Linked DNA regions of Homo sapiens: region 1 is linked to region 2. Evidence: fine-mapped expression QTL. A gene starts in region 2. The other region holds a variant in brackets. All regions are shown on one strand. Distances are from middle to middle. Region 1 overlaps TRDN (triadin). Region 2 holds the start of TRDN (triadin).

Region 1 (5,394 bases), 170 kb before region 2:
GATTTAATAAAAGTTTAAGAAATGAATGAAGACTTAAAGAAATGACTTTAACGTTCCAGCAAAATTTATTACAAAGCTGATCTTGAGACATCATATTTTCAAGAATTATTAGTAGTATTAACCACCAGTTGTATATAGTACTTATAAACTATACATATACATAAAACAGTATTTGTGTGTGTGTGAGTGTGTGTGTATATATATATTTCAATCCTCACAATAACGCTAGGAGATCAGTGCTCTGCTTATATCATCTTAGAGATGGCAAAACTCATGAAGAGTTAATTTAAATAACTTTCCAAATTTACAAAGCTAGGAAAAGGTGGAGCTCAGATTCAAACCCAGCAAATCTGGCACCAGCCTCTTCAGAGACTAAATTGATCAAGTTGTGGTAAAACTCCCAGAGTTGCAAGGCATAGCCTTATCTATTTGTCCCTATATTTTTTTGCTTGATTCCCAAAGTGCTAGAGTGGGCATCCTTCTGGAAGCTGAGGGTCACCAATATAGAATCTTAAGGGGACATTTTTGGTTTTCTAAAAGAAGCAAATTGCAATTTTAGGAAAAGTATAGTTTAGACATACTAAAAGTATTTAAGAAAATATTGGATTTTGCTGTTTCTTTGTGACTATTTTTGTTGTTGCTGTTCCTCTACATTCTATTTTATCTACAATAGAGATCTTTAAGAAAAAAAAAAGTACTTGCCTTCAAGGGCAGGTGATGCCGGAGTGGGTCTGGAAGCTTGTTCTGTCGGTAAGGGAGGTGGAATGGCTGGGCTTTGTCCTACACAATGTAGAAGTAGGAATTGGAAAAAAAAAAGTATTAACAAATCTAATATCCACAACTAAAAAGCTAGATCTGTCCCCTACATGCATAATTCATAATACCAAGCCAAGTATAAATCATATTATTATGCAAAAAAGAAAGCTATTATTAAGGGAGATCTTTAAGAAGACACCTTCGCGGATTCAGTTATCTTCAGAGCCATTTCTGAATATATTATTTTCCATAGATGGATATGCAATGTTAAATATATCTACTGGACTTCATTAATGGAAAATGTACATGTACTCAAATTAAGCAATTTATTTTTAATATACACACTAAGTTATGGAAACTAAAATCTCAGAAGCTGAGGGGGAATCTTAATATAAAATTAATCACTATTTTTTCCATTTAACTAAAAATTCTCAAATGATATAATATAGGCAATAAAAGAAGGTTGAAATTCATAGGCCTTTGATATTGAACAGATACATTTTTCCCTACCATAATAAATGACCTGTAGTTAAGTAAATAATGAGCCAAAGAGAAAATATATTCAGTTTTATAGAACTTTGAAAGCTTCTCTCAAGTCTCTGTCTGAGCTTATTATGAACTGCAAAAAAAAAAAAAAAAAAAAAAGAGAGAGAGAGAGAAAGAAAGAAAACCCACAATCATTTCCAAGTACTTCTTTATCCCAAGTGATTTCTTTAATTAACCAATACCATCCAGGCCATGAACTCTCAACATTAGCTATCATATGATCCCATATAAATTGCTTGCAAAACATTTTATCACTACTTTTCATTCCATAAACTTCTGCTGTGTGTTTTTTATCCAGAAATCAACATGCAACATGGGCATGTGTAACTTCTAAAATCTCACTGACAACTAGATATTATCAAATGTCAGCAGACCTGCCTTACTGAAAGTTTTCCTTTTTTAGAATTCACCAAAATTAGTTATCTATGGTGTAATATGGTTTAGCAAGCAAAGTAATTAGAGTTGCACAAACACCACATTTCGGGCCTAGGCCCTCATGCCACATGGAGCTCTGTTCATCATATATGGTTCTTGTAGCTGTTACACCCATACAGGTTGATTACTGAGCATGTTTAAGTATGTATAGAAGCCAAACATACTGTTTCATAACTTACAGGCCGTATGTCTAGAAAAATATCCATTCATAATATTGTTAATTTCTTTCATTATGGAAGTAAAGATTGACTTAAACATAATATAACATGGAAGTTTATTTTTTCATTAGCAAAGAAAAAATAAGGCTGGGAACACTAAAAAGAAGGTTGATCCACATTATCTTTCTTTCCCTAGCTAACAATTACATAGTGTTTACTATGTGCCAAGAATGATCCAAATGGTTTTCCTGCATTAAGTCATTTAATCTTCACAAGCTCTTTGGGATGTGCATATTAGTCTCATTTTATAGTTTTTAAAACTGAGGTTAACCAGAGTTTAGGCTTCTCAGCTGCTAATAAGTGGAATTGGATTTCAATGCAGGTTCCCAAGTTGCAATTCTTAAAGTTCCTCTCAGATTGCCTATGCTTAACAGAAGGGTCATCTATCAGGAGTCCATGACTATAGCTGACGAGGGACAGAGGAGTGAAGCCTCTACTCTAGGTTTCTACTTTCTCGGTGGGTCAAAGGGATATATACTTGGAAAGATCTATTCCCCAACCTTGTTTGAGGGCCATTCTTGAAAAAATAATTTTAAGGTACGGTGGTATTTTGTAGCTTTGAAAATAAGCTACAAGGACAAAGAAGGAGTCAGTTAAATGACCAAACTTTTAAAATATGAGTGTCCATAAATATACATCAATTGTTTCTAAATACTAAGATAGATCGATATCTTCATAGAATGGTGCCTGTTGAGTCTCAGCTGCTTTCTACCCTGTCATATACCTCGGTGAATAGTAGTGGGTGTATAATTATAGTCTTTTATAGTCTTGAGTTATTGAGGAACTTATTATACTATATATAAAATTATTTCCCTGTAAATTTCACATAATTTACACTATTACCTATATTTAGATTTATCTGAAGGAAATATAAAGTTATTACTTTATTTAAAACAACTTTATTGCATACTTATTATATACCAGCACCAAAGAATTATTAAACCCCAACCCTGCCTTCAAGAAGTTCCCAACATACTGGCTGAAACAGACCTCTAGACAGATCATTACATGATAGTGTGTTGAAGGAAAATCGTATATAC[T/A]AAGGATATACTGCAGAAAGAGTCTTGAAAGAGAGTAGGTTAACAGCCTAAAAGGAGCCTGCCAGGTAAGGAAGGATGGGGAAGACGGAGGGATTCCAGGTGGAAGGTATGTGGTAAATTAAAAAAAAAAAAAAGCCTGGATGCCAATATATATATATTTATTAGAACACACAAACTGGTGCTTCTGCGGCATAAAGTGCAATATGCAGTTGATATCAGAAATTCTGCACAACTATAATGCTCTTTTTATTCTGCTCTCTAACATGGCTGATGGCATGGTTGTAAGGCAGTGGACACAATGGGTAACAATGGGAAAGTAGGACCACAAGCAAAAAAAAATTAAAAAAAGAAAGGAGAAGCCAGCTGGCTGCCTGTCTCCATGGTGACAGTGATACTAGCCCTGGCAGGGAATTACTAACTCAGGACAAGTTTTTGTTGTGATAGGGTGCACCAAAACAAATCAGATGGGTCATACTTGAACATGACACACGACTTTGGTCCTGACTCATATAATCAGTAATGTCAGAGAATCTTATTGAAATCACAAATCGTTTTGTTAGGTGAATGAATACATTATATAACATATATAATAATACATAATGAATTATATTAAATGTGATATTATATTTATAATACAGCTCTACAACAAAATCAGAGTTGTTTAGTATAAAGACTGCATGCTTAGGAGTCACATGGGTATTAAGCGATAGCTTCAGATCTGTCACTTAGAAGCTGTGTACATTTGAAAATCTCATAACATCTCCAAGCTTCAGTTAAGGTGTTTATAAAATGTGGATAGTTGTAGGGGTGTTATAGAGATTAAGTGATGAAGCACCCAGTGCATGGCAGATACTCAAAATATTAATTCTTTTCCCGATAATGTATTTACAATTTAAATCCCATCTAATTTCACAAGAAGATTTGAAGCTGACTTTTGAAGAAAAACAAAAACAAAGAAAATTGAACATGACAGAAATAGCAGAACTCATTTGTAGAAAAGAGGCTTATAATTTTATTAGGAATATATTCTTTTGGAATTCCTGAAGATTGTTATTCTCTGAAGGAAAGATTTAGGCTGTTGAAATTTACATTCGAACTCTAAAGGTGCCCTTCATTTTACAAGCTATTACCTGAAAATCCCTCTGACATTCAAACACAGTAAGTTGGCTTCATTTCTGTTCCTTGAGTGATTTGGGCTGGCTTATTTCCATAATACCTGAATGGTAGGTTGGCAAATTGCTAATACTTTATTGTTCTGAGTTCTTTTCCATACAAGTCAATTTGGTTGTTTTTGATTTAGTCAAATTCTTTTGGGGCTAGTGTACAGTGTGCATTCATTCTAATGATCTAAGTTACTGATGTTTTCTTTACTTTCCTAGAAATGATGAATGAGATTACTAAAAATCTTGTCAAGGTAGGAGGCTATGAGCTGAATTATGATTGCATGATGGAAAAAAGCAATTCACTACACTGAAGTTTAATCTATCTAGTTTCTTTATGAACGAGATTCCCTGATTGAAAACCATTTCTGAACAACTGAAGCCTACTCCCTCTGTCTTGTAACAAATGTTAAGGCTGTTTTTTTCTCTACCATCTAATAGAGATTTTATGTCATAGACCCTCATTGGATTTTCCTGGAAGTACGGAGAGTTACATCCAGAGAACTCTGAACATTTTGGAAGGACCCCAATCCTGCAAACAATGAATGGCAATAAATCCTGGGACTGGAAAGGTATGAGGACCTCCAAGTAACCATTGAGTTAAAATTCCTTTACATTAAAAACACACAATATATGAAATCATTACAAATCCCTGTGTCAATTTGTTCTTTCAGGTTCATAGAAGGCATTTGTAAATCTATGACTAAAAGTAAAGTGAGAAGATGTGAGTTTAATAAGGAAATGATAGTCAAGTTTATTAAAGCAATAATATTACTTATGTATTGGTATAAGTTTCCTAGACTACTTTTGTAAGATGTGGAATATTTTGAAAGTTTGGAATTTAACAAATACTAAAATTAAATGAAAAGATGGTTTTATATTTTAGGCTGAGACATGTGATTGTGCTAAGGTTGTGTGTTAATAGGGACACCTTGACCTTCATGCTTCCTTACTATCACTTGCTTCTGTCTTGTACTTTTGGACCACTTAGGGATGGAAAGAGGAGACCCTAGAGATATGGGGTGCTAACCACTCCTCCCTTTCCCAACCCCATCTATTAAAAATAATTGAATTGCCACTCATATAATAATCAGAGATGTTCAAATTTGCCTATTAAACAAAGACCTCTCCAACTGGGAATAATCTGAAGAAGTTCAGGAGTTTGTGTGAGGTGGGCAGGCACAGGATGTTTTTACTTCAAACAGACATCCTTATACCTTCCATTTGTGTGTTGCTAAA
Region 2 (5,394 bases):
CCAGTAGTTAAGTACAGCCTGGTCAACATAAGGAGGTCGTGTCTTTACAAAAATAATAATAAAAAAAAAATTAGCCAGGCATGGTGGTGCACACCTGTAGTCCTAACTACTTCTGATGCTGAGGTAGAAAGATTGCTGGAACCCAGGAGTTTGAGACTGCAGTGAGCTATGATCATGCCACTGCATTCCAATATGGGTGACAGAGAAAAATTCTGCTCTAAAAAAAATAAAATAAATAAATAAATGGTTGAAAAAAATATAGCAGATGAGATAAAATAAGACTATTTCAGGCTCAGAAAATAGCCTGTACCAAGGCACTGTACAAAGGTATACCTTTTATAAAAGACTGGAGGAAGACAATTGTAGCTAGGGCACAAAAGGTGAGAATTGCAAAGATAACATGAAACTGTGTAGTAACAAAGTGTGAAAAAACTTTGGATATCATCAAAGAATGACTGTGCTTCCTTAAAAGATGAGTTCATTTGAGTTGGCAGTCTAATTTTCATTTGAGAAATATTATTAATAAATCATTCCAGAAAACAAAAAAAAATGCATAATTGATGTTCAGATAACATAGATCCTATGAACTGTTAAGGCCCGGAAGTGGAAAATGACCATCACCCAAGAATTAGATGGTATTTCTACTTTTTAATTTTATTACTAATGTAATTATTTTTATGGGTAACTCCAGAAGGTCTTCCAAGGCCCTTTTAAACCCCCGCAGAGCAAAGGCAGAAACAAAAGCTCTATTTCATAATCAAGAATTTTCCTGTAAAAAGTCTTTTGAATCAAATGCAAGTTCTACAAAACATAATCCACAAGCAAGCCCAAGATGGTTTAGTCAACTGACCTCCTGAATCACCTGGGAGCCCAAACCCTGAACAGAGGTAGAGAAACAGAAGATTAAGACGCTCGTAGCTATCTTAATAACTTGTGCAGAGCTAAACAAGAAGTTTTTATACATAGCTTTCTTTAAGGCAAACTAAAAGCAACATGACACAGAATATCTAAGGAATAGGAAAAATGCTATTTATATTTAGTTAGCAAATTCTGAACTAAAATTGGTAAAGAGTAAACCTGATATCCTCTCACAGAAAAGAAAACACACACACACACACACACACACACACAAACAAGATTTAAAGGGGCTGGGTTTAAATGTTGGTAATGCTGGTCTTGAGCAAGTCACATAACATTTTAGTTACAGTTCCTTTTTCTGCCAAACTGAGATAATAATGCCTACTTAATTGAATTGTGTCAGTTTTAAATAAGTAAACACACATAACGTTCTGAGCAAAATACCTAACACATAGAAATCTCTCAGTAATTGTTATTAATACGAGGTGTCAGACTGAATTTCTCAGTGCAAGGTACAAATAAGGCACTTCTTATAAATATTGACTAAAAATCTCCAACAGAAATTACTGTGTGTCCATACTAATTTCTACCCTCAAAAATAAAAACAAATATTCTATTTTTCAGTTGTATTATTCAAAGCAAACCAGCACAGCATTTAACTTGGAAGTTGTTAAGAGCACCACCTGTCTGATTTTCTTACAGCTGTCAGAAGCAAATTTTAGATCCACCTCCAAAAGTTTTACCTCAACTAGAACCAGACTGTGTCTGTATTCAAAGTAATTTAGTTTTGAAGGTTTCCTTCATTCTAAGAAATACGTACATATATATATGAAGTATATATGAAATATAAATATATATAACTAGCAACCATCAAATAGAAGATATGTATTATAGTATGTAGCTTTCAGTAAAGCATTGAAACAGAAAATATTTATTGTAACATAAAGATAGAATTTACCATTTAGAGGAAAATGAAGAATGAATTTACAAAAAGAACCAGAATTCTAACACTTAATTGCTTTATTTTAAAAATCATACTGATTCACAGTAAGTTTGTGGAATTCCAGTCTTTATCTCTGAATTTCCATTAATGGTCAAATAAATACAAATTTTATGGGAACACTTATGTCTTAAATTGTATATAAATCATATATATGTATGTGTGTTTTACATACCCTAGTAGGAAAGGAAAAACAAATTTAAGGTCTCCATTTAAAAATATCATAAAGCAGAAATGCTTCAAATTACTTTTTAAGTTTAAGTAAGCATTAGTGTAATATTTTAAGTAAGCATTAGTGTAATATTTTAAGTTCATCATGGTCTCCATCCTTGAAAACTTTGTAATTTTTGCTGGATAAGATATCGGCCATCATGTTACATGACCATAGCTATTTATAGAGGTGTGAGTAACAACTGTTAACTAGTGGGGCCTTTGGTATAGCAGAGAACAGTTTCCACATGCAAAATTTAAGAGAAATCTCTTTTTGCTCCCCCAATATACAGATCTGGCAGCCTCTCAGCTCCTAAATCCACTTCTCAGATCCTGTATAGAATCATTGACCAAGGCAATTACCTTAAAGCAACATTTTAAATGGACACATCGACAGTTAATGTGGCTGTCGATTTGCATATTTTTTTTCCTTACTTGATACTATCGGAAAATGGTAGCAATACCTTCAGCAGTGATCTCAGTCATGGTGGTCGTCAAAAGTAAAAGTCAGTTGAAAAGTTCCCGTCAAGTTGCACTTTGCAGAGTATTTGGGGATTTGAGAACTCTGGTGGAGGGTTCTGTGTCAAAACCTGGGGGCTCTTCGTTTTCCTGGCTGTTTCTGCTGCTTCTTTGTTGTCCTGTTGAACTTTGCCTCTCCTCTGCAGAGTTCTCCCCCTGGAAACAACCTAAGCCCTTTCCAAGCAGCACTTGTGGCTCAGCTAGAAGTATCAGCTTCAAACAAAAATAGCCTCATCTCCCTAGGACTCTTCAGCACTTTTTTTTTTCTTTTTTGGCACTCTAGAGGAACACACACACAGACACACCAGCTCTTCAGCCCCAAAGAGAGAAAGGCAAAAAACAAACAAACAAACAAAAAAAACCAAATGAACTACAAAGTACCATCTAAGCCCCCGCAGTTTCTCTAAGATAATTACAGATCCTGGGGTCTATGTCAGAAAACATGAAATAAAGAGTTGAAAGTAATCTTATCCGTGAGAGCTCAGATTTATTCTTAGTGCTCTTAATGCTCAGAACATTCTTCTTTCCCTTATTTGGTTTGGGGAGGGTCCCAAATGTCTATCACAGGCAAAAGGGAGGGTAGTCTTGAGTAATTTTCTAGAAGTTATGTTCCTGTTGATACAAATCCACTTAGCAAGTGCAGTTATTTATATAGGGCTACACTTAAAATTGCAACTATTAAATCTTGAAGCTTTCTTTTAAAGTAGTCATATTGTAGAAGATTAATATTTTCTGAACACTGGCCAATAAGAATTATGTAATGTGAATTTATAGTGTGATACTTGAAAAACATTGGATTGATGAATTACTATCTTTTTAATTCTCTCTACTACCTTACTAAGAACTAAATACCTGCATTTATCCATGCAGTAAAAAGGAAGGGAAGGTGACATAAAGTTTAGTAGTCCACAGCCAATATTTAAGTAAAGTATTTCCTTATCTCAACTTAAAAAAAAAAGGATTATAGCAGCCACTAACAATTAACCAAATTGGCTGATTAGCATTTCACCTTCCCACTCCTAGACAGGTGTTAATGAGCAAAAAAATATTCAATAGTTGGTAGTTGGAAGCAAAAGGAGAATCGAAGGGCATTGATAATCATAAACTCTAGCCAATCTGTGAATAATCAAGGGTTGACTACACTTTTATTTTATTCTCATATTCAACCTAATAAATGCTTGTAGTTTAATCTTTTAGCTTGAACTTGATACTTTTCGTTTTCAGACCTCCCGAATTCCTATGGTACTTCATAGATCATGAAGCAAAGCCATGTTTGTTATTTTTAAAATTCAGGCTCAGAAGAGTGCTGCAACAGCTATTTCCATAGGCAATGACCTCCTCCCTGTTAGTGGTTCTGTCTTAATCTACTGCCCCCATTCCTGACACAATAGAAAGTTGCTCATTTACCAGCTGAATACATAAATTAGTAACAAATCTTAATTTACAAGGAGGAAATGATTACATGATTACATTCATGATTTTATTCAATTCCTATATCTAGGACTGGGCCTAGAGCCTTTTAACTACAAGTTTGCTATCTTCCCCAAGAAATGAGGCCTTGTTGCAGATACTATGACTTAAGGTAAAGGGGGTCACTGCAAATTAGGCCCACTAGCGGGATGAAAAGATACAAAATCCTCAAGAGCAGCTTCCCAGAGCTCTGGGTTGGTCTAAGGAGGTATCCTAAGAGAAAAGCCCTCCTTACATTGCCCCCCACAAAGAATCTCCAGTCAATAGTGCCACAGCAGTTCCAATTGTTTTGAAAAACGTAGCACTTCATATCTCCATTCATCAGTTACTTTCATAATCTTTCATTGTAGTTAACTGAAGGAATGACATCTTATGTAACTCATTAAGAATTTTCATGGGTCAGATCCTAAATAAAATTAGGCTCTGGAACAGGAAAAAACTCAACTTTTCAAACTAGTTTTACTCAATAAAAAGTTAAAATAAGACTCTAGAAAAGAAATACTAAATTCCTAGTATTGATGTTAGTCTTAAGTTCCCAATCACTATTTTCATGTTAAACATACTGGAAGGAAAAATAAAAGAAAACATATTCTAGACAATAAACATGTTTTGAAGATAATAGCTTTTTCAAACCTTTCTGTGAGATGAGTTGATGAATGTCATTAGGCAGTGAGAAATTGGCATGGTTCTCATTTTGAAAAGTTATTAGGACTCTTTCAATTTATCTGAAACTCCATTCATGAGGTATGTCTTTGAATTCCAAATGGAACCCTGCCAAGCTTTCTGAAACCAAGCAACTGACATTCTTACAAGTGTGTACACCTACTCTTCAGGGAACTCAAAGAATAAAACATTACAAACGATTCATTTGCCCTTCTTTATTTTTAAAGGGTCTTCATTTTTAAAGAGATGTTACCAGTTCATTGAGCTCTTTCAAAAGGACCCAAAAGTGATATTTCTCTCTTCTCAGCAATAGCTCCTGGAATAACTCTCACATCCCACTTCTGCACAATCAGCACAGGTAGACTTGTCATAGTTTTGCATACAGGGATATTTATAAAATTAGGACATTAATAACTGAGCTAGTCTATATAAGTAAATGATAAACTGTGAAAATTTGTTCTCCTATTAATGTCGCATTTAGGTCAAGGGGCATCTCCAACCTGATTATACTGATCATTACCCCTTGTAATATTCACTAGTTATTCTAAATACTCAAGTTAGTAGATAAAAATATTCTCCCTTAGAGAAATTTTTAAACCTTGCTCCTGTGTCTGCTATTATCATAAACACTCAATAAGACATGTATTCTATTTAGCTATGAGCAAAATACTGTC

Evidence for each region. PIP is the estimated chance that this variant, and not a neighbour inherited with it, causes the effect. A credible set is the group of variants that fine-mapping cannot tell apart.
Region 1: its variant is the best candidate, but not a certain one, in a credible set for the expression of TRDN in cerebellum (GTEx, PIP 0.59).

What each region holds. Positions count from the first base shown.
Region 1 is chr6:123,464,204-123,469,597 of GRCh38, forward strand. It overlaps TRDN (triadin), which reads right to left. Exons shown (of 41, transcript NM_006073.4): 10 at 703-780. It overlaps TRDN-AS1 (TRDN antisense RNA 1), which reads left to right. Exons shown (of 3, transcript NR_110844.1): 2 at 4,613-4,727. Among named protein-coding and RNA genes, the nearest start is that of TRDN-AS1, 27 kb to the left of the region's middle. The variant T/A (reference allele first, on the strand shown) is at 2,996.
Region 2 is chr6:123,634,222-123,639,615 of GRCh38, forward strand. It overlaps TRDN (triadin), which reads right to left and starts at 2,729. Exons shown (of 41, transcript NM_006073.4): 1 at 2,533-2,729. The coding sequence starts at 2,554. All of the region lies in intron 1 of LOC105377981 (a long non-coding RNA gene), which reads left to right.